Linked DNA regions of Homo sapiens: all the other regions are linked to region 2. The links come from fine-mapping of genetic effects on gene expression. A gene starts in region 2. Each other region holds a variant in brackets. All regions are shown on one strand. Distances are between the middles of the regions.

The links.
Region 1: its variant is fine-mapped to the expression of SRGAP3 in lung (GTEx, PIP above 0.99). The same link has a PIP of 0.9 or more in thyroid, tibial nerve, transverse colon, unexposed skin and whole blood.
Region 3: its variant is fine-mapped to the expression of SRGAP3 in whole blood (TOPMed, PIP 0.97).
Region 4: its variant is fine-mapped to the expression of SRGAP3 in whole blood (TOPMed, PIP above 0.99).
Region 5: its variant is fine-mapped to the expression of SRGAP3 in esophagus mucosa (GTEx, PIP above 0.99).

The regions. Positions count from the first base shown.
Region 1 is chr3:8,991,308-8,996,307 of GRCh38, forward strand. SRGAP3 (SLIT-ROBO Rho GTPase activating protein 3) reads right to left here. Exons shown (of 22, transcript NM_014850.4): 19 at 3,036-3,216; 20 at 1,599-1,748. Among named protein-coding and RNA genes, the nearest start is that of RAD18, 30 kb to the left of the region's middle. The variant G/A (reference allele first, on the strand shown) is at 2,079.
Region 2 is chr3:9,246,973-9,251,972 of GRCh38, forward strand. It overlaps SRGAP3 (SLIT-ROBO Rho GTPase activating protein 3), which reads right to left and starts at 2,674. Exons shown (of 22, transcript NM_014850.4): 1 at 1,913-2,674. The coding sequence starts at 1,979. It overlaps SRGAP3-AS4 (SRGAP3 antisense RNA 4), which reads left to right and starts at 2,784. Exons shown (of 3, transcript NR_146969.1): 1 at 2,784-2,849. RefSeq lists an enhancer at 2,453-2,692.
Region 3 is chr3:9,216,084-9,221,083 of GRCh38, forward strand. All of the region lies in intron 1 of SRGAP3 (SLIT-ROBO Rho GTPase activating protein 3), which reads right to left. It overlaps SRGAP3-AS3 (SRGAP3 antisense RNA 3), which reads left to right and starts at 812. Exons shown (of 5, transcript NR_103443.1): 1 at 812-906; 2 at 1,279-1,393; 3 at 1,648-2,470; 4 at 3,126-3,273; 5 at 3,384-3,425. The variant C/T (reference allele first, on the strand shown) is at 2,336.
Region 4 is chr3:9,223,189-9,228,188 of GRCh38, forward strand. The region is part of intron 1 of SRGAP3 (SLIT-ROBO Rho GTPase activating protein 3); the gene reads right to left. Among named protein-coding and RNA genes, the nearest start is that of SRGAP3-AS3, 8.8 kb to the left of the region's middle. RefSeq lists an enhancer at 1,208-1,467. The variant TG/T (reference allele first, on the strand shown) is at 2,725.
Region 5 is chr3:9,145,519-9,150,518 of GRCh38, forward strand. All of the region lies in intron 1 of SRGAP3 (SLIT-ROBO Rho GTPase activating protein 3), which reads right to left. Among named protein-coding and RNA genes, the nearest start is that of SRGAP3-AS2, 44 kb to the right of the region's middle. The variant C/G (reference allele first, on the strand shown) is at 2,420.

The DNA.
Region 1 (5,000 bases), 260 kb before region 2:
CTGGGAACTGAAGACACTCTAACGTTGCCACCCAACCCCCAATCTCCCCAGAAGAGGGCTCCTTCTGCGAGGCTTTTTTGGATCTTGGAAAACTAGTCATTCAAGAGTAAACACTGCATGGCTGGACAGCCCTTTTGTGCATTTGGTACCTTTCCCACTTCAGGGAGGCTCTGGTGTGGTGAAAAGGGGATTAGGTTGTGTTTCAGGAAGGTGAGTTCTTGCCCTGTGTCTGCCGCGTGCTTTCCTGTGTCCTCTCTCAAGCCCACTTTATTAATCTGTGAAGCGGGTTTAAGCAAGATCCTTTGCCCACCCTTTACCTTTGCTTCAAGTGGGTTTGAAAGCACCTTGAAGATAAGAGGTTCTATACACAGGAGATTTGGCTGCATCCTACAGAGGTCACCAAGAGTCTGAAGGGCTAGAAGTGGTGAGGGGAGAGGGAGAGGGACCGTGTGTTGGGAATGGATTATGACTAGGGACCACCAGTGATTCAGATCCTAGTGCCACCAGCCAAGCTAAGCAGTGCTTGTGGGTGCCCCAGCAGGACCAAAGCATAGGTATTGGAAAGGAAGCAGTACTTAGAAAGAAAGAACAAGAACAAAGGAGGTGAGGGCGGGGGACAAGGGAGAGGAAAAGAGAGGCAGAAGATATGGTCCTCCTAGAAGTCAGGGGACCATAACTTCTTTGTCTACCTACGCCAGCCTTCCACTTCCCTGACCTTCTCAATTCCACCACAGTGCCCCGAGCTATCTGCTGAACTGAATGGAATTTGCAGAAAAGAGGCATCAGGATTTTTGCTGAAATAAATTCATAAATTGTGTGTTCCCACTGTGACTGATTTTTTTGGGGTCTATCTGCAAATACCTACATGTGTGGGCTGACCACATGACCCCTCCACTGGAAAAAACATAGAATATGACATTTTGAGAGTGTGACTAAAAAGGCAGTGAGAAACTGTCAGCTTTTCTTTTCTTTTCTTCTTATTTCCTCATTAATTTTTTAAAAAATAACCACATACTTTGGATTATACCTGTTCTCAGAAGGACATGCACAGCTCCTTGCCTGGTAGAAAGGTTATGTGACACAGCCTGGCCCACACATAGGGAGCGAAGAAATTGGTAATACTGCTCCCTCCAAATAAGTGGGTGGAGTCGAGTGTCAATTTCCTTCAACACATGAGTAGGTGTGAGTTTTCTGTTTATGTAGCGCGTTTCAGGGAATATGTGAGCTTTACATTTTTAAATATAACAACTCAGTTCTACAACAGAAAGCTGGAAGGAGGTGCAGGAACTGGACACAGGTAGGAAAAATACTTGCCAATTTGTATCTCTCTCACACATTATTATTATTTTAAATAAAAAAGCACTGGGTTCCCAACACATGTCTTTCCTCCTCCTCCTCCCTGCAACACAGGCTGGATGGTTCTATACCTGGCCTTCTTGGGCCAATGCCAGCCAGCCCGCCCAGTGTGCCCATTTCATTTTGTGGGGAACAAGGGGCTGCAGTAGGCTCCTTCTCTCCTCTCTGCCCTTGTGCTTCTCCCAAATCAGACATGAACAGGATTGACACCAGCAGGGAAAAAATGAATCCGCATATCCTACCGGCCCATCACCCCCCCAAAGCCGTAATCCGAGATGTGCTCCGTGGGGGACTGGAGGTCGTTTTTGGAAGAGGCCTTGTCATCCAGCAATGGCCCACTGCTGGCCTCGCTGTCAGCCTTCTGGCTCAGGCTGTCGGAGAAGGCATCATCCCTGGGGAGAAGACAGACATGAATTGGAGGCACCTTCCCCCAAAGAACCCAGCATATACAGAGCTCCCTGATATGTGTCTGAGGGGCTGAATTAACACAACTTATGGTTACTTTGTGCCCACAGCGCTTGCTAGGCCACTGCCCACTGGGTGCCTTCCCACCACGCATGCCCATTGCAACACTCCTGGTCAGTTTCCGCAGCTGGGACCCTCTTCTGTCCCACACCTACCTCCTCCTTTTTTCTCTTCTAGCTTGTTCATTCCCAGGCAGCTCCAGGCTAGGACAAGCTAAATGCTGCAGGGTGTGTTGGAGAAATGGGGGGATGGAGTCC[G/A]CAGGCTGAGCACCGAGGGCTGAGTGCTGAGTCTCTGTGTGACTTCATGAGAAATGGCTTCTGGCTAAGCAAGGGAGGAAGAAGCTGCCTCTGCCCCTCACCTCCCCACCCAGGGCTTGGGCTACTGTGAGGTGGCTCCCAAGCTTGTTGGGGTGCCCTGCCGGCCTCCTTCCACGGCCCTCTGCTGTGGTGACTTGTCCCTGATCTCAGAGGTCTGGGGACTTCGGGAGGCTGCCAAGGGCCCTCCACTATGGCATTCCTCTGGCAGTCTGCTTGGCCCTGGCCTTTTCTCTGGCTGAGACCCCCTCTCTCCCATCACAATGTGGGCTGTTGATCCCCTTCCCTTGAGGCTCAGCTTGGTGGCTGCCTCTATGGTAAATCTGTTCTGCCGAGCCTGACCAGAGCTCCCAAGGAAGGTGTGCACTGGAAGCTTCCATGGCTTTCAAAGGAATGGAAAGTGCAGACTTTTTGTGGTAGGACTAGGCATTTGGGATGCAGGGCTCTTTTTCATTAACCCCTGAAATTATTTTTTAAAAAATAGTACCCTATTAATCAGAAACAAGGGCATGTTTCTGCCCATCCCCTAAGAGAGCTACCTCTGGAGTGTAGAACCGTAGGCAGGGGAGGCCTAGGAGGTGGAGGCACATGGCAGGATCCCCTGGATACTGAGAGCCCTGGTGGGTGATGGCACTCCCTGGGGGCTGTCAGCTGCATCAGGATGTAGGCCAGAGGCACCCAACACCGTTTCTGTGTGCTCAGAAGGAGGAATTTGGATATCCGTTAAGTGGATCACCATTTAAAGGGAAGTTAGATATTACCCATTGTTAGAGAAGAACAAGCGTATGATATCAAGGAGAGCAAATTGCTGGCATACAAGCTAGCACTCCCCTACGGTGCCCATCCCAGACATCACTAATCTATTTCGGCATTCTTCACAGAATTCTCGACTCCACTCACATGTCCTGTACAACTATGTACTGATGGGGGATGAGTCCATCCACGCCGTTGTGCCGGCCCTCCCACCAGTCCTCCGAGGCGCGGTGGTACAGGAGCAGCGAGGCCCCCTTCTTGAAGGATAGCTCACGCGGGGACCGCCCCATGTAGTCAAACTTGGCAATAGCCTCGATCTGCTCCACTTCTGGAAGGAAATCAAGGGAAAAAGCGTCTCTGAGGTCAGCAAAGTGGCAGCTCAGGAGCCTCACTCAGATGGCCCTGGCTTCTCTGGGGAAGGATAGACTGCACAGCTGGTGAGAACATGGACAGAACGCCTGGTGGGCTGGGGCTCAGGACCCTGGGGTCCTAGCCTCAGATCCACTCTCCACCCTGCAACCTCAGGAAAACCATCAAACCCTCAAAATGTAAAGAGGGAGCTGATACATGCTCCTTTTCCACTGCCCTTCTTGTTCTCTACTTTTTAATGCTCATTAAGACAATATTGTAGAATTTTCGTTTTCTTCCACCCCTTAACACAAGTTCTATTAATATTTCTATTTTTCTATGCACCCTTTTCCTCTTTGTCATTTATAATACTTTTAGTAATTTTTAATCTTTTGAGAGGCCACATCATGTATGCAGACTCTAATCTGCAAAATCCGATACAGGATTTTAAGGGTACCCAGACCCTTCAAAGCTCATTGTTAAGGACTGAACTGTGTCTGCCTCAAATCTATATGTTGAAGCCCTCACCCACAACGTGACTGTATTTTAGAGGCTTTAATTAATGTAAATGAGGTGATTAAAGTTAAATGAGGTCATAATGGTGGGGTCATAATCCTAGTGCTGGTGTCTTTATAAGAGGAGCAGAGGCTGGGCGTGGTAGCTTATGCCTATAAGCCCAACACTTCGGGAGGCTGAGGCAGGAGGATCGCTTGAGTCCAGGAGTTTGAGACCAGCCTGGGCAATATAGTGAGACCTCATTTCCAAAAAAAAATTTTTTTTTAATTAGCTGGGCGTGGTAGCACGTGCCTGTGGTGCCAGCTACTCTAGGGCCCGAGGCAGGAAGATCACTTGAGCCTGGGAGGTTGAGGCTGCAGTGAGCCATGATCATGCCACTGTACTCCAGCTTGGGTGACAGAGCAAGACCCTGTCTCAAAACAAACAAACAAAAGTTCTTGTACAAAAGGGCATAGCTTAGTACAGATACTCATGAGGTATTCGGTTGACAGCAGCTGTCATGACTGTGATTATAATTATTAATGGATTTGGCCTATGGGATGCGTCCAGAGAAGAGACGTTGAACTGCAGAGAGTTTAAGTGTTTTAAACTGCATGGTTTAAGGACCATACAACTAGTGATATTTGGGGAAGAGACGTTTTGGGGAGCAGGGGATTGTGCCTACAGTTTATTCCACCTGTTTTATAGTTTCTACCCTAAGAAGTGTCCATATGTGGTAGAAAACTGATTTTGTATAGGTATTAATGTTTTAATATTTTAAAGTAAGCACAAAGAGGTTTAACATTATAATTCTTACTTTTTTTTATTTTAATAGAACAGAAGAGTAACAAAAGCAACCCCTGCCCTCTCTCTAGCCTGTAGATAGCTTCTCCATGCTGAGCTTTCTTGGGGCTCTCTATCTGCTCCATTCACTGTGGACAATCTCGTCTTCATCGATCTATTCATCCACCTGTCCATCACACAGTTAAGCTCAGAACATTTGGCTTTACCATTTTTTAGTTGTGTGACCTTGGGATACTTAGTTTTTCTTTCTGTGCCTCAGTTTCCTCATCTGTTAAATGGAAATGGTAATAAATAGAACCTATCTTACAGGGTTATTAGAAGGATTAAGTGAGTGAATATACATGAAGTGCTTGCAACAGTGTCTGGCACATAGTACCCTATAAGAGTTACACACATGTTGTTACCAGAGGCTGGTGCACTTCTAAGGGCCACGGATGGCATGGAAAAATCAAAGAGCAGGAGGAG
Region 2 (5,000 bases):
AGCCAGGGCAATTAATGCCTAACTGGCCCTGAAGAAAAGTTCACTGGCCCAGTAGTAGCAATCCTTCCAAAATGAGATAAGCACATTTCCTACCAAGAAAATATCATAAAACCTGAACTGTCCAAAACTCAACATCCCCTTCTCTCTCAAGGCATTTTCATGGCAACCTTAATTTTTATAAAATAATAATAATTGGCCAAATTCATTTTATAAAACATAAACTCCCTAAAAAGAGTCTATTCAAAGATTGAAACTAGGCTTTTGTATTGAGCAGTTGGGTGAATTAAAATCTCTGACCAATAAAGCGCTTATTTCTAAATTTTCAGCAAGGCTGAGACATCGTAAGTCACTGTTTTCCACATTGAACTGAAAAACCAAAGACAGGAGACCAGGGAAGAGCAGGGTTTTCTGCTCCTCTTGCCCTAGGATATGCCCAGAGGTGATGAGCACGCTGGGCTTTTGACCAGGACTAAAAGGCAAAAAGACTGTTGGTGAGACTGGAAAAAAAACAGATCCCTCCCCCCGTGGCTGCTCCACTCCCAAAGTTTCCCAAGCATCTGAAGCGTGTATGGCAGCTGCGGTGCCCAGCCTTCCCGCTGCTTTTAAGGAGGCCACCCAGCTCCCTGGGTCATTGGGTCTTCAGTTGCAGCAGCGCCCAGAAGCAGGTGTGGCAACCTCAGGTTGCTTGAGCCCCAAATACCCAACTTGCTCAACAGCCTGTGCATAACCTCAAAGATAGGCCTCAAGGTCCGCTGAAGATGCATTTTGTCTTTACTCTTTCTAGGAGAGGCCACAACACACCCTGTGTCGCAGCAAGGAGAACCATGACCAGAAAGAAAGCGGACGCCAAGAGGCACGAGCCCAGGCTTCCCACAGGGCACATCCTCAGAGAAAGGAGGAGCCTGCTGGATGGAGCTTTTAGATTTTCCTTGCCAAAGCTGAGCCTAGAACGTGTAGGGGTGGGAGAAGCCCCAGTCTGGCCTGAATGAGGATGCGGCAAGCCCGCATTTAGCCATGCAATTGTGTTCCCTTTCCTATTTCGCCTGGCTAGCGTGGATTTAGGGAGCGGCTTCTGAAAGAAGTATACACCCGGTGGCACAGAAGGTGCAACCAGCAGCCAGAGGTCATCTCGCCCTCCCGGCAGGCTTCTCCTGGAACCCCGGAAGCCAGGCAGCGCTGACCAGCCCAAACGGCATGCCGAGGTGTTGGCTTTGAATGAAAGCTGATGAACCTAAACGCCAGGGCACAGAGTGATTGGGCTGCACACTGCGAGATAATACATTTTCTGCACCAAGCTCCCTTTTTATGCCCAAATGCCTGCATTAGTCTGGATCAATATGCCCCATAACAGTTAATCCATGGCAACCCAGGCCAGCCCAGAGACACCGACAAAGAAGTGCCGCCCAGGGATGCTGCCTCGCTGTGCACATGCATGTGAATTCCGGCCCAGAGAAAGAGGCGGAGGCAAAACCACCACCACCAACAGAAACCAAAAAGGGGGAGGAAAAAAAGAGCAGATGGTAAAAAAATACCCCAATATTAAAGGGCTTTTACCATGGCAGGGAAGGGGTGGAGGTAGTGACTATCAAAATGGCCTTAGAGTGACATGTCACCGCCAAGATGATGGGGTATCAGCGACACTCCTAAAGTCAGGCATAGGATCCTCCTCACACACCTGCAATGCAGAGACTGCTGCCCATTCCATAATCCACACTCCCAGCCCCAGCGCTATCTGCAGTTGAAACCAGTCCGGACTTGTGCGGCTGCCACTGTTACTCCTCACAAAAAGATTATTGATGCATAACATTTCATAATGGCAGAGAGGAAAACGGGGGGCAGCGGGGGATGGGAACCAGAACAAGAGAAAAACGAAAGGGGAGGAGAAGGAAAACTCTCCCAGCCCGCATCTCACCTTTTATTTGGGCTTCATATTCAGCAATGATCTCTTTGTCTTTCTTGAACTTAGTTTGAGATGACATCTTCTGACGTGGCCAAAGGAACTGACAGGCTGTTTGATTTATTTCTCCTTTTCTTTTCGAGTCCTCTCTCAAGCCCTGGTAATCACACAGCTCTGGTCGATTTCACAGGTTTAGGGACTAATCTCTTTCACTTGGCTGCAGAGCAGGGAGAAAAATCCTTCTCCTTCTGGAAGGAAAAATCTCTTTACTTGCCGAGAAATGGCTCTAGTAGCTTGCCCTGGTCAGCTCCTCTTGCAAAAGAAGAATCACCCTAGGAGCACAGTAACCTGCCCCAGATTTTCAAAGATTTTTCTTCCAAAAATAATAATAATAGTAATAACCAAGCGCACTCACACACACATGCACACGTACACACACTCACGCATGCACAGGCACACTCACCGGGACACGCACACAGTTGTGCTGTGCACACAGGCATACACACACACACCCTCACACGCACACACACTCGCTGGATCACTCACACACACACATCCACGAGAGGCGCGGCGCCTCTTTGGTCGTGCAGCCAGCCCCTGGCTTGCTTTTGAAGGCTCTGCTAAGTCGATGGTCAGGTTGCCAAAGGGCCGGTCATCTCGCATCCTCCCTCCCTTCGGTGCCTCTGGTCTGATGTCCAGTGAGGATCAAAGCCAGGAGAGCGAGATGGAAGTTTTCCTGCTGCAACGCTTAAGCTCCGGTGAACACAAGGCTGGACTGCTCGCCCTGCAGGGCTGGCTGAGCTCTCCCCCACTGCTCACGTCACTAGACTCCGCCTCCCGGATTTTATAACAACTGACACATTGTAGCCTACAGGAGAGCAGAACTCACTGCAAGCAAAAAGGGGAAGAAACGCTCACAAAAGGGAAGGCAGCAGGAAAAGTAATCGGGTTGGTAAGTCTTGAGAGGCTTCTGCAAACTCCAAACATTAGCACTTGGGTTAGGGATTTTTCTTCCAAAAACTTAAGATCCTCCCTTTTTTTGCACTGTGCAATTTAATTCAGTTTCTGGAATCAACAGCTATATGATGGTTTGTCACTCTACTGGGATAGTCTAGCAGAGGGCCTGACCCATGTAGGGAAAAGCATCAATATTTGTTGAGCAGTTACTTGGTGGCAGAGACGATGCGAGGAGTTAAAGGCATGCAGCTTAGCAAAGCCACGCAGAGCAGGCACACTGGAGGCAGAACAGCTGGGTGGGTCATTGGCTTGTGGGGCTCTGGGCAAATTCATAAGTCAGACTGAGCCTCAGTTTCCTAGATAGTAAAATCAGCTCTCTTTGGAGGCTATGTTATTCATTCTTTCAACAGATATTTACTGAATGCTTACTATAGGTCTAGCACCGTTCTGGGTACAGGGATACAGCAATGATCAGAACTGGCACACACAAAAATCCCTGACCTTCTGAAGCTCCCGGGGCTCCACATCACACAACTCCAGCAGTTTCCACCATTCATGCTAATATTCTTAGTAAAAAGCACCCCTGGAGTAGAAAGCATTGTGAATGGTGCCCCCTGGAGTTGTACGAGGCAAGAGGCCCTGGGAGAGGAAGACCAAAAATAAGCACAGTAAGTATATTATATAATATCATACAAAATGTAAAGTGCTATGGGAAAAAATATTGCAGGGTAAGGAACATCGGGAATGAGAGGAGCTCTTGAAAAGATCAAAGAAAAATGCAAAGCTAAGCTTAGCACAGTCTCTGGTGCATAGCAAGCACTCAATAAACAGTAGCAACTGTTATTACCCTTTTATATCCCCCAACAACCTAACAACATAGGTATAAGCACCACTCTTTCACAGACAAAGGAGCAGAGGCTCAGATATGGGAAGTGACTTACCCAAGGTCACCAGCCTTCCAACCCAGGCTCAAAGTCTCCTGCATTCTACAAGGGAGACCAAACCCATTTCATGTGGAATTAAGGTAGAATAAGATTCATTCTGTAAAAACTGAGTCAAGCACTAAAGAGTCGCTGATCACTGGAATTTCATATGCTAAGATTGTCACTAATGTGTATTGGCCCCTGACTGTCCCCTGAGATAAATGTTCCCAAATTTCTCAAAATAGGTATAGTCTTCCATTTGCCTTTTTCTGAGTCTATAATAAATGATTCTGTTTGGACTCAGAAATGAATAGGTTATCCATGCTAGTCCATCAAGGCTTCCTAGAGGACATGGCAGCTGCAGTGGGCGTCCCCAGGCAAGTATGGCAAAGGGAGTGAGGCGGGGCAGGATGTTCTCCTGGAGCACACAGCATGAGCTGGGGCCCACAGGTGGCAAAGCACAAGACCTGCTTGGAGCAACGACAGGGAGAAGTCCAACTGGTGAATCATGGGGCTTATTATAGCCTTGTACCCGGAGGCAGGAGGTCACCAGTTCAGAAATAGATGCCACTGGCCCGCAGCCCTTGCCATCACCCCACTGCCTCACGCCTCCCCTGGACATGTTCAGGCCCTTTGCTGTCCTCTTCTAACTAGTTCAAACCCACAAAAGCCCCACGTTACCTGAGAAAGATGGGCACAGAGATTAACATCCCTGCTGCAAGTCTAGATTCTTCAAGAAAAATGAAAGTTAAAACCATACACCTTGGAGTACGACAGACTGGATCCTCTCCTGGCTCTGCCACGAGCCTTGAGCTCATGAGAACTTGAGCAAGTGGCTCAACCTGCTTGTGTGCCCACTGGTGGCAGGAACTCAGTAAATGTCAGCTATTTTCACCATTATTAAAATTTTAAATCCACAAATAGTTCTAGGAGACCTATGTGTAGGGTGCTGAGCCATGGAAATGTCACAAAAATGTCACAAAAAGCCATACAAAACCAAGGCCAAAGATGGTATAGCGCTCTGAGCTGACACCTGGCAGAGGCTGGGTTTTGGAGTAAGTCAGATGGTGGTTTACCTTCTGGCTCTGCTGTGCACCAGCTGTGTGTGGGGCTCATGGAGGAATACACCTTCTCTGAGTCTTGGTTTCCTCATCTGTCATAGGGTAGTGATCCACCCATGGCACAGGATCCAACACGATCATGGATTTAAAGTGCCTGGCATA
Region 3 (5,000 bases), 31 kb before region 2:
TATCTGGAGGCCCCTGACTAATGCACACTCAGAGGGCCTGAGCACCAACTGTTAGTATGCACACTGCAGATGTATCAGCCCACCAGGTCATTCTCTTATGCTTTCCCTCTTCTGTGCTTCATCTTCTTACTTCCACAGACCCTTCTAGAACACTCAGGCCCTGCCTCTCACCTGGAGGCAGGACCATCCCCCACAAGGGGAATACAAAATTATGGGCATACGTTTTAAGTCAACACAATGACTGGAGAGTACTACCAGCATTTAACGGGCAGGGGTCAAGGTACTAAGCATCTGCAATATAAGGGACAGTCCCCACAGTGAAGAACTGCCCCACCCAAAACACCCTGTGGAGCAGCCACAGCCCGGTCCTCTCCGTATCGTTTCTCTGAACCGTCTCCCACCTTCCTCCTACACTTCAGGCTGGCAAAGCTGAATGGCCACAGAGCAGATACCCTAAGAAATGCTAGCCCAGTGCTCTCAGAAATAACTTCAACTCGATGGACTGTTGCAGTTACGCACTGTCACAAACAACGATTCTTACTTCAGTCCCACGTAGAGGACAGGCTCCGATGTAATGGATGAGGAAACGGAGGTACTGAGGGGCCAAGTCACTTTCCCGAGCCATGGCTAAAAACTGACAAGACCGCAGCACATGAGCCACACCACGGAAGCCACCCAAGTGTCCCTCCCCAGAGGAGCGGATGAACGTGATGCGGCCTCTACGCATACAATGGGATATTACTCCGCCTTAAAAAGGAAGGGAATTCTGACACACGCCTCAACACGGATGAACCCTGAAGCATTACGCTAACTAAACTACAGCAGACACAGAGGACAAATATTGTATGAGTCCGCTCACACGAGATGCCTAGAGGAGCCAAAACCACGGAAACAGAAAGTAGACTGGTGATTGCCAGGGAATGGGGGAGGAACAGGGAGTTCCTGTTCACTGGGTGCAGTTCCAGTCCTACAAGATGAAAAGTGTTCTGGAGATGGATGGTGGTGACGGTTGCACAACATTATCAATGTATTTAACGTCATTGAACTGTGCATTTAAAACGGTTAAGATAGTAAATTTTATGTGATGTGCTTTTCGACACAATAAAAAAAAATTGACAAGGCTGGCACTCGTTAACTGAGTTCCTAAATCAAAATCCACTCTCCTTAAATTATACCCCAGCCCTAAGGTCTAAATGAAAACATTGCTGCCTTTCCAATACATTGGGCTGTGAGAAATTTAACTACTTTAACTATTAATGGCCCAATCCTGTGCCACAGGGGCCTCATTGAGATGCCAGATTGCTTCTTCAAGACCCTCCAAGGGGGCACGTCAAATTCTGATGGGCCTCACCTTGGACAAGGCTGGGGTTTTTAGACCAGCTTTCACAGCCTGGTAAGACTCCCTCCTCCCCGCAAAAGGAAGGGGATCTACAGAGGGTGGCCAACTTTTCAAAGGGTATTCGGGGCAGGGAGAAGAACTACCTCAATTGTTTAAGAAAGGATAATTTCTGACACACACATACACACACACCACACCACACCACACGCAGGAAATGAAGACCATCATTTGTGTAATAAAGAGCAGGTCTTGAATTGTGTGCCATTAGGTTTATGAGAAAATGTCTACATTGTCCTTATTTTTTTCAGGTTGCTCCAGTGTCAAGACTGACAGTGATCCAGGGACCTTTAGGGCAGACAACTTCATTGTGACAGAATGAGACCTGTGGCCTTTGGACCTCGGTGGGGCCATATGTCACCCCTGCAGGCCCCAGGCCCCCCAAGCCACCAAGAGTCACAGAGGCAGGGAGGGGACAGGAGGAGATCTTGCCCCCACTGCATCTGGCTCTCCTGCCCTCACCATCCGCAGCAGGGGGTACACTACAGCTTCGGCTTTACAAACACAGGGAAAAAGCTAACACAACCTTTAAGCCGCATTAACAGGATCAAGGGATGTATTATTAGTCCTGCTAGCCTCCGAACCATTGAGAGTACTTCTGAAAGACAGTGCTTACTTAGCTTGGGCTCCAGATTTTAAGAGACCCGTTAATAATTTGGAAGGTTTATTAGCAGACTGCAGATCCAAAAATGGTCCTCCTCTATTTGGGAAGATATTGCAGGAAACAATGCTCTAGGAGAGACCACAGCTGGGCCAGCCAGATTGGTCAAATCCACCCTAGAAATGAATTAGGGAGAAGAGATGGCAGCCAGATGGCTTTTTAAATGTTGATAAGCTGAAGTGTGGCCAGAAAAAGAGACCAGAGAATGAGGGAATAAGTCACCTAAAGCATGATGGCAGAATCTAAGCATAAACGCTTAGCAGAGAAAATAAACACAC[C/T]GTCCATATACACCATGCCCAGCCCCAAGCCCAGGGCAGATCTGATACTCTCCTGCTGACCCTGACACAGCCTCAGAATACTTCTCAACACAGACCGCCAGCTGTCACTGCAATCCAGCACAGTTGGCACATCAGGTAGAAACTATTTCCCACCGCTGATTTAGGAGTACATAAAAGCTGTCTTTATTTTATTTCATTTTATTGAATTTTTTATCTTTTAATTTTACTTTTTATTATTTATTATTTTTATTTATTTATTTACTTTTTGAGATGGAGTCTCACTCTGTTGCCCAGGCTGGAGTGTAGTGTTGTAATCTCTGCTTGGCTCACTGCAACCTCAACCTCCCGGATTCAAGTGATCCTCCCACCTCAGCCTCTCTAGTAGCTGGGAATACAGGTGTGAACCACCACACCTGGCTAATTTTTGTATTTTTAGTAGAGATGGGGTTTCACCATGTTGGCCAGGCTGGTCTCAAACTCCTGACCTCAGGTGATCCACCCACCTCGGCCTCCCAAAGTGTTGGGATTACAGGCGTGAGCCACTGCGCCCAGCCTATTTTATCTTATCTTATTTTATTTTTATTTTATTTTATTTAAATAGAGACAGGGTCTCACTATGTTCCCCAGGCTGGTCTTGAATTCCTGGCCTCAAGTGGTCCTCCCACCTAGGCCTCCCAAAGTGCTGGGATCACAGGTGTGAACCATCATGCCTGGCCAAAAGCTGTCTTCAAATGACGAAACAGCTACCATGAGGCAGCCAGCTTAGATTTTAGTCTGTATTGTTCTAAAGGAGAGAGGCATCTTGCAGTTCCACTCAAGAAAGACTTTCCTAGCAAGACTTTCCAACAATGCAAATAGTCTCATTTCTGAGGTGGTCAGCCCCTTACTGCAGGAAGTTCCAATCAGAAGCCTCATGGTTGTCGAGGACTCTGCATCAGGTGAGAGTTAGGACGTATGCTGTGATTCTTGAGGTTCAGTGTAATCAGGTATGTACTAAGCCATAACATGTGGCAGGAACAGGCACACAGGTTATCACCTCTATTTACAGATGAGGGGGCTTGAGTAACTTTACCCCATGAGGAAGCAGAAGATCAAGAATTCCTATCTACAGAATGGAATACCATCCAACCATTTAAAAAGAATGAAATCCTGGCCAGGGGCAGTGGCTCACACCTGTATCCCAGCACTTTGGGAGGCCAAGGCGGGTGGATCACGGGGTCAGGAGATCAAGAGCATCCTGGCTAGCATGGTGAAACCCCGTCTCTACTAAAAACACAAAAAAATTAGCCAGGCATGGTGGTGGGCACCTGTAGTCCCAGCTACTCATGAGGTTGAGGCAGGAGAATGGTGTGAACCCGGGAGGTGGAGCTTGCAGTGAGCCAAGATCGCACCACTGAACTCCAGCCTGGGCGACAGAGTACAAAAAAATAAAGAAAGAAAGAATGAAATCCTGTCATTTGCAGCAACATGGATGGAACTGGAGGTCATTATGTTAAGTGAAATAAGCCAGGCACAAAAAGATAAATATTACATGTTCTCATTCATATGTGGGAGCTAAAAATGTTGATCTCATGGAGGTAGAAGGTAGACTGATCATTACCAGAGGCTGGGAAGGTAGGGTGGGGCGGGGAGGAAGAGAGGTTGGTTAATGGGTACAAACATATATTTAGATAGAAGGAGTAAGTTCTGGTGTTCAAAAGCACAATAGGGTGACTATGGTTCAAAACAAGATATTGGCTATTTCATAGTAGCTAGGAGAGAAGATTTCAAATGTTCCCAACACAAAGAAATTATAAAAGTTTGACGTCATAGGAATCCTCAACATCCTGATTTGATCACTCCATATTGTATGCATGTATCAGAATACCACATGTACCCCATAAACATGTGCAATTATTATGCATCAATTAAAGCAATTTTTTAAAAAAGAATTCATATCCAGATCATTCGAAGTCCTGCATGTAGTCCACTCACCTCCAGGAGAGGCTGCAAACATCAAGATGAAGCCTCCTCTGCAGCTCCTGGGTCCTCAGATGTGCCTCTGCTGCCTGCTCTTTCCTCCCTAAAAATGCTGCCCAGATTATCATGCAATGGCCCAACAGCTGCTGCTCCAAAAGTTTCAGGCACAGGGCTCAGCTTCCATACTGCTGGACAGCAGGCATCTTGTTTGATCATTATATCTCCAAACAAGAGTACTCTCCACAAAGGGACACAGATGGGATCCTTGACATTGGGCTTAGTGTCTTTGTCCCCAAATCTCAGGCACTATCATTCTTTTGGATCAAGGCATTTAAGGCATCTGTCCCAATGCAAATGTCACTAAAATTGGGTAGCACCTAAAGCCACATTGATCACTGGCTCCCTAGATGATTAGCTCATCATTGGCCTTGAGGTCCCAAGCAAATGGGACACACACAGGAAAGTTTTAATGAGAGGACAGGGAAGAGGATGGCTTGAGGAAAGGCAAAGCAACTCCATCCACATTGCTAGTCCTGCTGCTGCCTCACAGCCCAGGGCAGACCCCACCTCCCATCCTCTCAGGTCCCACCTCTGTCCCACCCCGCTGGTGACAGCATCTGCCTTAGTCCCCAGTGCCTGAGTCTTATTCCTGAGTATCCCAGCCCCATGGCCAGGACATGCATCTGCCAGCCTGGACTTCCTCTTG
Region 4 (5,000 bases), 24 kb before region 2:
ACTTATTTCTCTATTGTCTGTGGATGTTTTTGCACTACAAAGGGAGGGCTGATTGGTTACAACAAAGACCATATGGCCCACAAAGCCTAAAATGTTTATCACCTGGTTTTTACAGGACATGTCAGTAGGTCTAGAAGATGCCAATAATTACACTGTAAAGAAAAAGAGTACCTAGGTTAATAAGTTCAGGAAATAATGAATTAAATAGATTTTTCTACAGGACTTATCAGAGTCTTTAATACATAGAAGTGAGCTATGAATCTTTAGGAAGGGGATGCAGTAGAATGTTTTCTACACTTATTTGAACACAGAGCCCTTTGCTCAGCACACATCTTGAGGGACTGGTGCTCCAAAGTCAGGAGGAGTTCCTCATGATACATTAAAGATACTCAGTCCAACTCCACCTGCATCACGGGGTTGCTAGGGAGATCAAATGCAATGCAACATGAGTGTGCCATGCAAGCCACAAGGCAAACAAGAATCACCCCTTCATCCCAGCCACTCATCAGGTGTTCCAAAGGCATTTTATCCCCGTTTCCCACCAGCCATTATGAGGACAGACACAAATGGCTTCAAGGCATCAACTGTTTCCAAGAACCTGCTGATTCTGAAGAACCATCCCAGCCTTCATAGAAAAGTGCATGACTGTAAGGTTAATGGGAAGGGTTGCTGTGAGATTCGATTTGTTTCCATTAAAGAACATCAATTAATCTTGATTCTGGATGGAAGACAGGCACTTCTCCTCTCGAAGTTTCAATTAGCTCCCAGCACTACACAGGAGTGAAATCGGCTCCAGATAGATCATTTCCTTGTGCAATGCCATTTCACAAGCCACGGGGCTCTGAAGGAAAACAGACGCCCCTGCAGAAGAGAAGGCCTGACCCTCCTCTCCAAACACGCCTGCAACAAACACATGCATACACCATGCCCGCAGCCCTTCCACATGATACCTACAGCAACAGTCAGGTTTCGTCACCGAGTGCTACCCAAGCCAAGTTAATAGAACAACTCATTTAGACATGAGACTTGGCTGTTTCTGACTCAGACCTCTGGAAGCCCCCAGGGAAGGCTGAGCCGGTCAGGACCCCAAACTAGGTAGCAGCCATGACATTCGTGTTGAAATGTCATGCCATTTACAAGTGGTGTGGAAAAGGGAATAGAGGGAGGAAAGTGTGAAGGGAGATGGACGTGTGGGAACACCACGCACCCCTCCTCCACCCTGCACACTTAACCCTGTTCAGGCAGGTCAGAGGGTGCCTGCCCATCTTCTCCCCCCATGCAGACTCCAGCATCTTCCAAATGTCGAGTAATCGTGGAGCACCCTGCCATTCCCAAGAAATACCGCCTTCCCAAAATTGCCACAATTCACAAATACCTTCATATCTGTGGGAGAAAGGCCCCAAGAAAGGGCGAGTCCTTAAACAGAGAGATAAGGGAAAAGTAAAAGGGAAACTCAAAGGATGACTCAATAAAAGAATACACTGAGGCAACCACAGTGAAAACACGAAACTGCCACCAGATGGCTGTACCATGGATGGCCAGACAAGCTCCTATGTCTACACTAGAAATAACTCAGAACAGCAGGGCATCTCCTAAGTGAGAAGCCTGCAGAACCACACAGGGAGGGGCTGGCTGTGCAGGGAAGTGGTGTTGGAGGGTGTCCTATAGGTTGTGAAGGTCTAGGATGGACAATTTCAGCCTGAGAACCAAAAAGCAGAGAGACAGAGTCAAACAGCGTGGAAGTCTAGCAAATTCTATTGCAGAGCAGGGCAATCAAGAGGTCTACAGGCAGGCCTCACTCCCCTCAACTCGTAGCAGCCAACAGATTAGAGCTAACAGTCCTTGAAGATTCCTGCTTCTGGGTAAAGTGCCTGCAGTTTCTACCACCAAATCCCCAAACTTCATAAAAAGATTCAGTTCTCTGTCTCTCACCAGCAGATGACAGAGAGGTTCTGAGCCTGGAGTGAGGGGCCTTTGGAGAGAACAGTGCTTCACGTGACACTCAGGGCTTCCAAGCAGAAACTGCCCAGCTCAGGACCCACCTGAAAGCAGCTCTGTCTCAGCCACTTCCAGGAAATCCATCTGGTCTCTCTGCACCCAACACCACCTTCTCAGGGCAAGGATGGTCAGCAGCTTCCAGGAGAGAGGAGACTACTGTCTGCAAATGTCTAGCAGGCTTTGCTGAGGAAGAGGAAGCCACTGTCCTGAACAGCTCCAGAACAGGCCCACAGTGTGGAAGTTACCAGGTTGAAGACTTGGGTCATTATAAGGAAAACCACTGGGGGCCTTGGAGCCATACAATAGAACAGCTGGGGGTGTTTACTGAGATGAAAGAATTGGAGGCTGACTGTGTGTGAGCCACAGGTACTTTTTAAAAGCAGCTATAAAAGCATTTCTGCTCCCACTCCCTCTACCCCAACCCCATCCCCTGGCAAACTCCCAGCTGCCCGCCCTTCTGCTAGGGGATGACCAAGCAGAGTCCACAATGGCACCTTAAGGTCACAACAGCGCAGGGCCTTTAAAACAAGCCATGACACCAGGGATGGCAAACTCCAACACCTATTGGGGCCAGGCAGGCCGGGTAAACAGGTGACGCAGGCCAGGTAGGGAGTTTAGGACCATGACCAAGGGAGAGCTCAAGTCCTGCCACAGAAGGGCAATCGGTGCTCATCCCCAGAACAAAAGCCCAGCGCTGCCAGACCTTCTGACTTTTATAAAAGCTGC[TG/T]GGAAGTCCATATTTTATACAAAATCTCCTCATTTTTACAAGTTGGCATCTAACTCACATTTTTAAAAGACACAGTACAGGCCAAATAAAACACACCTGAGGCTGGATCGGGCCCATGTGCTGTCAGTCTGCAAGCTCTGCATAAAAGTTCAGCTTTAAAAAAAAATTACCAGTAATGTGCAGAGCAGATCCTGCCCCGCAACCCCAACCCCCGACCCCTATCTCTGAGAAATAAGGCAGGGGGTCAGGGGTGGGGTAGAGGCAGTGATATCTTTTGCCCACATTACTTGGTAAGAACTGGAAGTTTACATTTCCATTTTGAGCCTCTTCAGGGAGTCCTGCTTTCCTCTATCAGAAAGAGTTTTACTTTTGTTATGGAAATTATTTTCCTCTACTGGGCTGCAGAAAGCAGAAAATCTCAGATTGGCAGAGACCTTCTAAGTCACCTAGAACAAATCTCCCTCTGATGCCTAAATCCCCACTCTTGACAATCTCTTCCAGGGATTCATCACCCAGCCTCGAGCACCTCCTACGCCTGGGAGATCAAGGCTTAGGAGACTGCCTGCCTGTTCCTTCAAGACAGCTCTAATTGTTAGAAAGGTCTTCCAGACACTAGACTTCTATAAACGCAGCCCAGAATCAGATTAGGTTTTTTGGCAACTGCCTCACAGTGACTCACAGCAAAACTCACTGTCAACGAGAACCTTAAGTCTTTTTCACAAGTGCTGCTGCTAAGCACACCTCTCCCCAGTCTACAGACTGGTTTTCAGACATAAGGGCAAGACTTTACACTTTTTCCTCATTAAATTTCAGCCCACCTACATGGGGTGATGAGATGGCCATCCATTCACAGCTACAAATCTGTTAATTTCTCAGATTGTTTTCAGAGGACCATGACCCCATCTCTGCCCCTCAAATTGTTGAAGCTGATGGCTCTTCATTTCATCGATAACACAGATGGCACCATGAGCACCTGCCAGGAAATGCAACCTGCTATTCACCTTCTCCAAACCCCGTCTGCAGGAAATGATATTTATGGAGGATTGGCTCAAGGTGGATCCATTCCTCCAGGTCAAAAAAACCCACCTGCCCACAGGAGCCAAGCAGGCAACAGAAATGAGCAAAGTGGGCCAGGTGGGCACTGGCACAAGTCCGAGCCCCTGTCCCATTGGAAGGGAACAGCCAATTTTTGCCTCTGAGAATGAGGGCCCAGTGTTCCTAGATCTTCCCATTTTCTAAGAGCTGCCAGAAGTCTGGATTTTTACATGAACTCCCCTGATTTTTTTTAACTCTCTTCATTTTTAAGTGTTGGAAATGATGAATTCATTTTTGTAAATCCTGCAAAGGCCAAACAAAACATGCTAGTGGGTCTAACTTTGCCTGCAAGCCATCCGTTCTGCCATGAATGTTGTAAATTTCACTCTTGGATTGAATCGACCCCTCAAAATCTGGGTAAGAGTAATAACAGAGCGCACTTATTGAGTGTGGCCCACATTCCAGACATTGGGTAAGCATGGGTTATGTCATTTAATCCTTGCAAGAGTCCAATGGGTGCCCATTTGAAAGAGGAAGAAACTGAGGCATAGAGAGGGGAGATGCCTTGCCCAAGGTCAAGCAATTAGTAAGTGACAATGTTGGGATTCAGTCCTAGATCTGTCTGGCTTCCCAGTCCAATGCAGAGTCCTTGGACCACACTGTTTGGGCAGAATTACTTCTTGTGAATTGTGCTTTGGTGTTAAAATTATCAAATTACATTGCGATGTTTTTAACTACTAAAAATGCATTACGGTGGCTACGATAGGAATGACTAAGGACACCATCTAATGCATCACTGGGTCTTCAGTGGCCTCTAGCACCTGAATGCCCCTCCCTCATTCCCCTCAGGGGTTGGGGGGCAGTCAGAGACAAATACAGCAGCACTTCTTGTTGGGGGAGAGTATCCTGCCCTTGAGTAAAACTTCAAACTCATCCTTAAGGAGATGACAAAGGTTTTACTGGAAGTAATGACAGGGAGTCTCCATGGTGAAGTTTGAAAGGATGATGGTAAGTCGGAGGCAGTTTTCCATCACAGACATAGAATGGTTTGTTATGCTGTCATGCAATTCTCATTGTACAACCCAATCTGATGATCATAGTTTGAGACAGAAAATAAAGCATAACTTCTTGGCCTAATCCAAAGGTGGCAAACTCAAACACATGTAGAAACCAGGCAGGTTAGGCCAATGACAAGCAGCAGCAGGTGTAAGAGAAGGGTGTCGTGGGGACCCAAGAGCTT
Region 5 (5,000 bases), 100 kb before region 2:
CCCTATTTCCATATTCAATCATTCATTTACAGATTCATACAACATTTATTAGCATCTGCCAGGCTCTGTGCTAGGAAAAGAATGTACAACCCTGGGAGAGACTCAGGAGCTTCCCTTGAGGAATTCGGCAGACACTAACAAATACAAAAAATCACAACATTACAATGAGCTAAAACAGGGGTACACACAAAAGAAGAACATCAAGAAGGAAAGGAACTCAGGAAGTAGGGGAGATGGTAGGAACTAAAAGGGCCAGGGAGGTTTCACTGGGCATGCATGCCTGGCCTCAAAGGTTGGATAGGAGTTCACCAGGTGAGGAGAGAGAAGGCATGAGGGATATGGTGAGTGGGCAAAGGCCCTGAGGTCTGGAAGTATGTGACCTGTTCAGGGACTGGCGAGGGGTTCAACAAGGCTAAAAGTTAAGAAGTTTAGCAGGGCATGGAAGAAGCTCAGGCAGAAAGGGCTCCTTGTAGCCATATGGTGAATAGCCTTGAAGGCCATGTTCAGGGGCTTAGGCCTTACCCCACAGTCAATGTTACAGAAAACCTGGTGGCAGCATAGAGGCAAGTGAATCGGTAGAAGAGACTAGTTAGAAGGCTACTGCCATACTACAATTAGGGACAGGGAGACTCAACTAAGACTTATCAATCGAGCTCCTTCCATCAAGCAGGTATTCCACGTGTTGACTGACAAATCCTGGTTTGCTAACTTGTACAAGAACCCCATGCGTGGAGTGCCACAGGGCCCATCTCAAATGCAAAGGTTCTTGTAGTAGAGTTCACACACAGCATTTCCCTTAGACTGCCCAGTTTAGAGTCCCGCTCCACCTGTAGTTGGTGATAAGAGTGGCAGTGATGTGAAGCTGCTGCTATAATAGCAGGGACTTTATAGCCCCAAGCGAAACCAGAGGTGCAGACAGGTAACCCCAGCATCAATTTCTATAACTGATTTCAAAAATTAATGAAAAGGAAGCCAGTCTGGGAGAAGAAGTGGCCTCTAAGTGAAATATAAGTTTACATTTACCCCTCACCTGGTGAACTCCTACTCATACTTCAAGGCCCAATTCAGATGTCTCATGGGAGATGATGAGATTTCATGAGAAAGCTTGGCAGAGTTAAGGGAAGGGCTTCTTCCACACCTTGGCTTAGCACAGGGATGGTTCTAGAGCAACACAGACTGATGGGAACACAGGGGCATCTGAAGGTATGCAGACAGAGAGCACCAGGACCAGGTGCTAGAAGAGGAGCGGGAACCCCACAAGGTACACCCTGCAGGGCGCGAGGACGATGCGTCCCTCTTGGGTGCTTGGCAGGAAGCAGAGGTCAACCACAGCATGAGCAGAATTGTTCATGTACACGTGAGATGCCTCTGGAGACCTGACGCCCAGCGGTGGCAGCCTGCTGTGATGCAATGTAGGCTATGAGTGGCAGAAATGGACCCCCTCCACGCACACCTGCAGTTTGGTAAGACCAGAGACGTGTGGGATGTGAAATTAATCCAGCTAGCACTTACCAAGTACTGAATCTATACCCAACTCTACATCTGTTACTTCTAAAACTTTCCCTACAACACAGACAATACCATTCCCATTGTCAAGATGAGGAGGCTGAAGTTCAGGGAGATTAAATAACTTGCCCAAGGACACACCCCCATTTTTACTTCTTACTTTTGCAGAAGTAAACACAAAACAAGAGGAATGCTTTCTGGAAGTCAGAGCCTGCCAGGCCCCCACCTTGATTTCTTCTACTGTAGAGGACAAGAATATGGGGTTGTGGCAGCCACCAGAGAAGTGGGGTAAGGGGTCAGTAGGCTCAAGGGTTGATCATACTCCAGTCAGATTCAAAACCCATCTGTGCGAGGCAGTTTCACACACCTGATCTCATTTAACACTGACCACAAACCTACAGCAGCCTAGGACTGGGAAACGGTGGTTGAGTTAATGAACTCGGCTGTCAGGTGCTGTAGCCACAACCTGAGCCCCGGACTAGGTGAGCCCAGACTGAAGGCTCCCTGCCCCTAAATCTCAGCCACCTCAGCTTGTCACTCATCAGTGCATCAAAATCCCTGATTCTGGGCACAGAATCATTAGCCAGATGAGCCCTTCCAGGGAAGATTCCAGGCAGAATGATTCATGAGAGAGGAAAGAAAAATAACAATGTGCTCGCAGCAAGAAGCATCCAAGCGCTTCCTTTTGCTCTGCGGGAATTGGATGCATTCTGGCCCAGGTGTTTCCACACAGCCGTCCAGAGTGGTGGCCTCTGGAGAGAGGTGAAGCCTCCAGGAGAAAGGAATGCAGCCTGTGCCAGAGCCACTAAAGCAGATGACATGGGCAGGCCAGGGTCCACCAGGGCTGTGATGGGGCCCAGACCCTCAGATGGTGTCACCACACTCTGGCCTCTCCCTCCCATCTTTCAGAAGC[C/G]CCTCTGCAAAGTTTGGGAATAAAAGGCATTAAGCCTCACCTCCCACGCCTGAGATTGTCTCCAGAGCCAGGGAGGGGCTGTTTTGTTGGTTTTCTTCCTCCAAAGCCAGTGAGAGAAATACCCACGGATCCAGTTTAGCTTAAGTGTCCAAGAGAACCTCCATTAGCATCTCAGGGAGGACAACGCTAATCACCAAGGGCATCAACTTCAGGGAGGGAGAAGGAGGAGCAGGAGGAGGAGGAGGATAAAGGGATGAGGGCGGAGATGCCTGCCTCTCCTCCAGAAACGCCGGCTTTTATTTCAGGGACTGGAAGAAGAAAACGCCCTAGAAAAACCATCAACCCCAGCATTTCTCTGTGCTAGGCAGAAAACAAGCAGAGGAATGTGTGCTACAAGCACCAGCAATTTTGGGGGCAGTGCCTCATGGTGTCATGCAGGAAAAGAACATCTAGGAAGTCTTGTTTGTCATTTTCTTGGACTCTGGAAGCATCTTTTCAGAACAGTTTACTCCCAACCATCTCATCTGGGGAGACAGAGGAAGTGCCATGGGGTGAAGCCAGACTTGTCAAATAGCTACTTTGGCAATTATTTGAAACAGGGTACCCCCATTTCCAATAATACCTTACAACCACAGAGTGTTTGATATTTTTTTGAAATCCATTTGCATCCATTATTTATTTGACCCCACGGGGCCTCCAATTTACAATGGAGAACCTGAGATATCAGAAGCCTGGGACGTGGGGCCTGGGACATGGGGCCTACAGACAGGTTCCTCATCTCATAGTCCATCCTTTCTCCACTACCCCATGCTCCTCCCCAGTTCTGGGGGCCAAGTGCTTCTGGAAGAGCAATTCTGCTTCCCATGACACAGCACTTTACAGTTTGTAATCCTTCCCCAAACCTGAGAGTGGGCTGAAGAAAGAATGGATTCCTTGGAATTATGTGAGTTGAGCAGCATCAACATCATTCCCTTATTTCTAGGGAATGAAACTGGAGACTGGGTATGGGGGCTCACTCCTGTAATACCAGCACTTTGGGAGGCTGAGGCAGGCAGATCACAAGGTCGGGAGTTCGAGACGAGCCTGGCCAACATAGTAAAACCCCATCTCTACTAAAATACAAAAAATTAGCCGAGCGTGGTGGCAGGCGCCTGTAATCCCAGCTACTCAGGAGGCTGATGCAGGAGAATCGCTTGAAGCCGGGAGGCGGAGGTTGCAGTGAGCCGAGATCGCGCCACTGCACTCCAGCCCAGGTGACAGTGCAAGACTCCGTCTCAAAAAAAAAAAAAAAAAAGAAAAGAAAAAAAGAAACCTGAAGCTAGAGAGCCCATCTGGCACATGTGTCTTCCCCTAGGTCCCAGTTAGTTGAGAGCTGGCCAAGTTCATTAACTGCACCTCAGTTTCCTAATCCTAAGCTATGACCCAGGACTTTTGATGTCCCATGAGGCAGGTTAATTGCATTAATAGCCCCACTTCTTCAGTCTCTCCTTGTATCCATAATCGTTGCCATGTGTCTACAATTCCTTTCTCACTAAAGGGGCAAAATCTAGTTCCCCACTCCTTGAAACAGAGCTGCCCTGTGACTTGCTTTGCCCAGTAGAATGTGCTACTCCAGCTACAGTCGGGCTCCAAGATGCCTTGAGTGTCTCTGTTTGCTCTTGCACCCCTGCCATCACCAGCAGCACATGTCTGGGCTGGCCTGCAGGAGGGTGAGGGAAAAAGCAGTGGCGCTGCACTGCCCTAGTCACCTTAGCCAAACAGCCAACCTCAGACATGCAAGTAATCCCAGCCAAGTTCAACAGAACTGCCTAGCTGACCTCCAGATAACTCCAGACATGTGAGCAATAAATACCTGTTACTGATGTCACCAAGGTGATATGGTTGTCACGCACAATTCTACGGCAGTAGCTAACAGGCTCAAACCACCTAGCACCTGTTTCCCCCATCTATTCATGCACCCCATCCAGCCAGCCATGGCTCCATCCATTCATTCACCATGGGTTTGTTGAGTGCCCCCGACGTGTCCAATACCGTGCAGGTGCTGGGGAAACAGTGGTGGGCAAAGAACACACCTGCCCCTTTCTTCATGGAGTAAACAGACCACGAAGGAGGACTGACAAGCAACTGTAATCCAGTGAGATGAACACTGGGATAGGGCAAGTGCAGGGCACAGGGTGGATACAGGGAGGTGAGCCTAATGAGATGAGGGGGTGCCAGGGAGATCAAGAGGGGGTCCCGAAAGTAATGGCATCTCAGCTGAAATCTAAAGGCTGAAGAGGAGTGGGCCAGGGAAAGAGCTATGGGGTGAGGAGAGGAGGGTCAGGGAGAATGTCCCCAGCAGAAGACACCCTGGGCAAAGGCTGGAGGAGGCAAGTGACCATCTGGCTGGAGCCCAGAAGTAAGAAGGTGGGAGAGGAAAAGGGAGCCTGGAGAGGCCAGCACCGAGAAGACCCAATCTTCATCCCAGGCACTTTTTCCATGTTTATTTTCAAGGCCAAGTTAAACCCGGAAGAGATCATAGAAACTTCTTCCATGCACAGATGGAGAAAGGAAGGCAAAGGCCACAGAACACTTTCAGTGT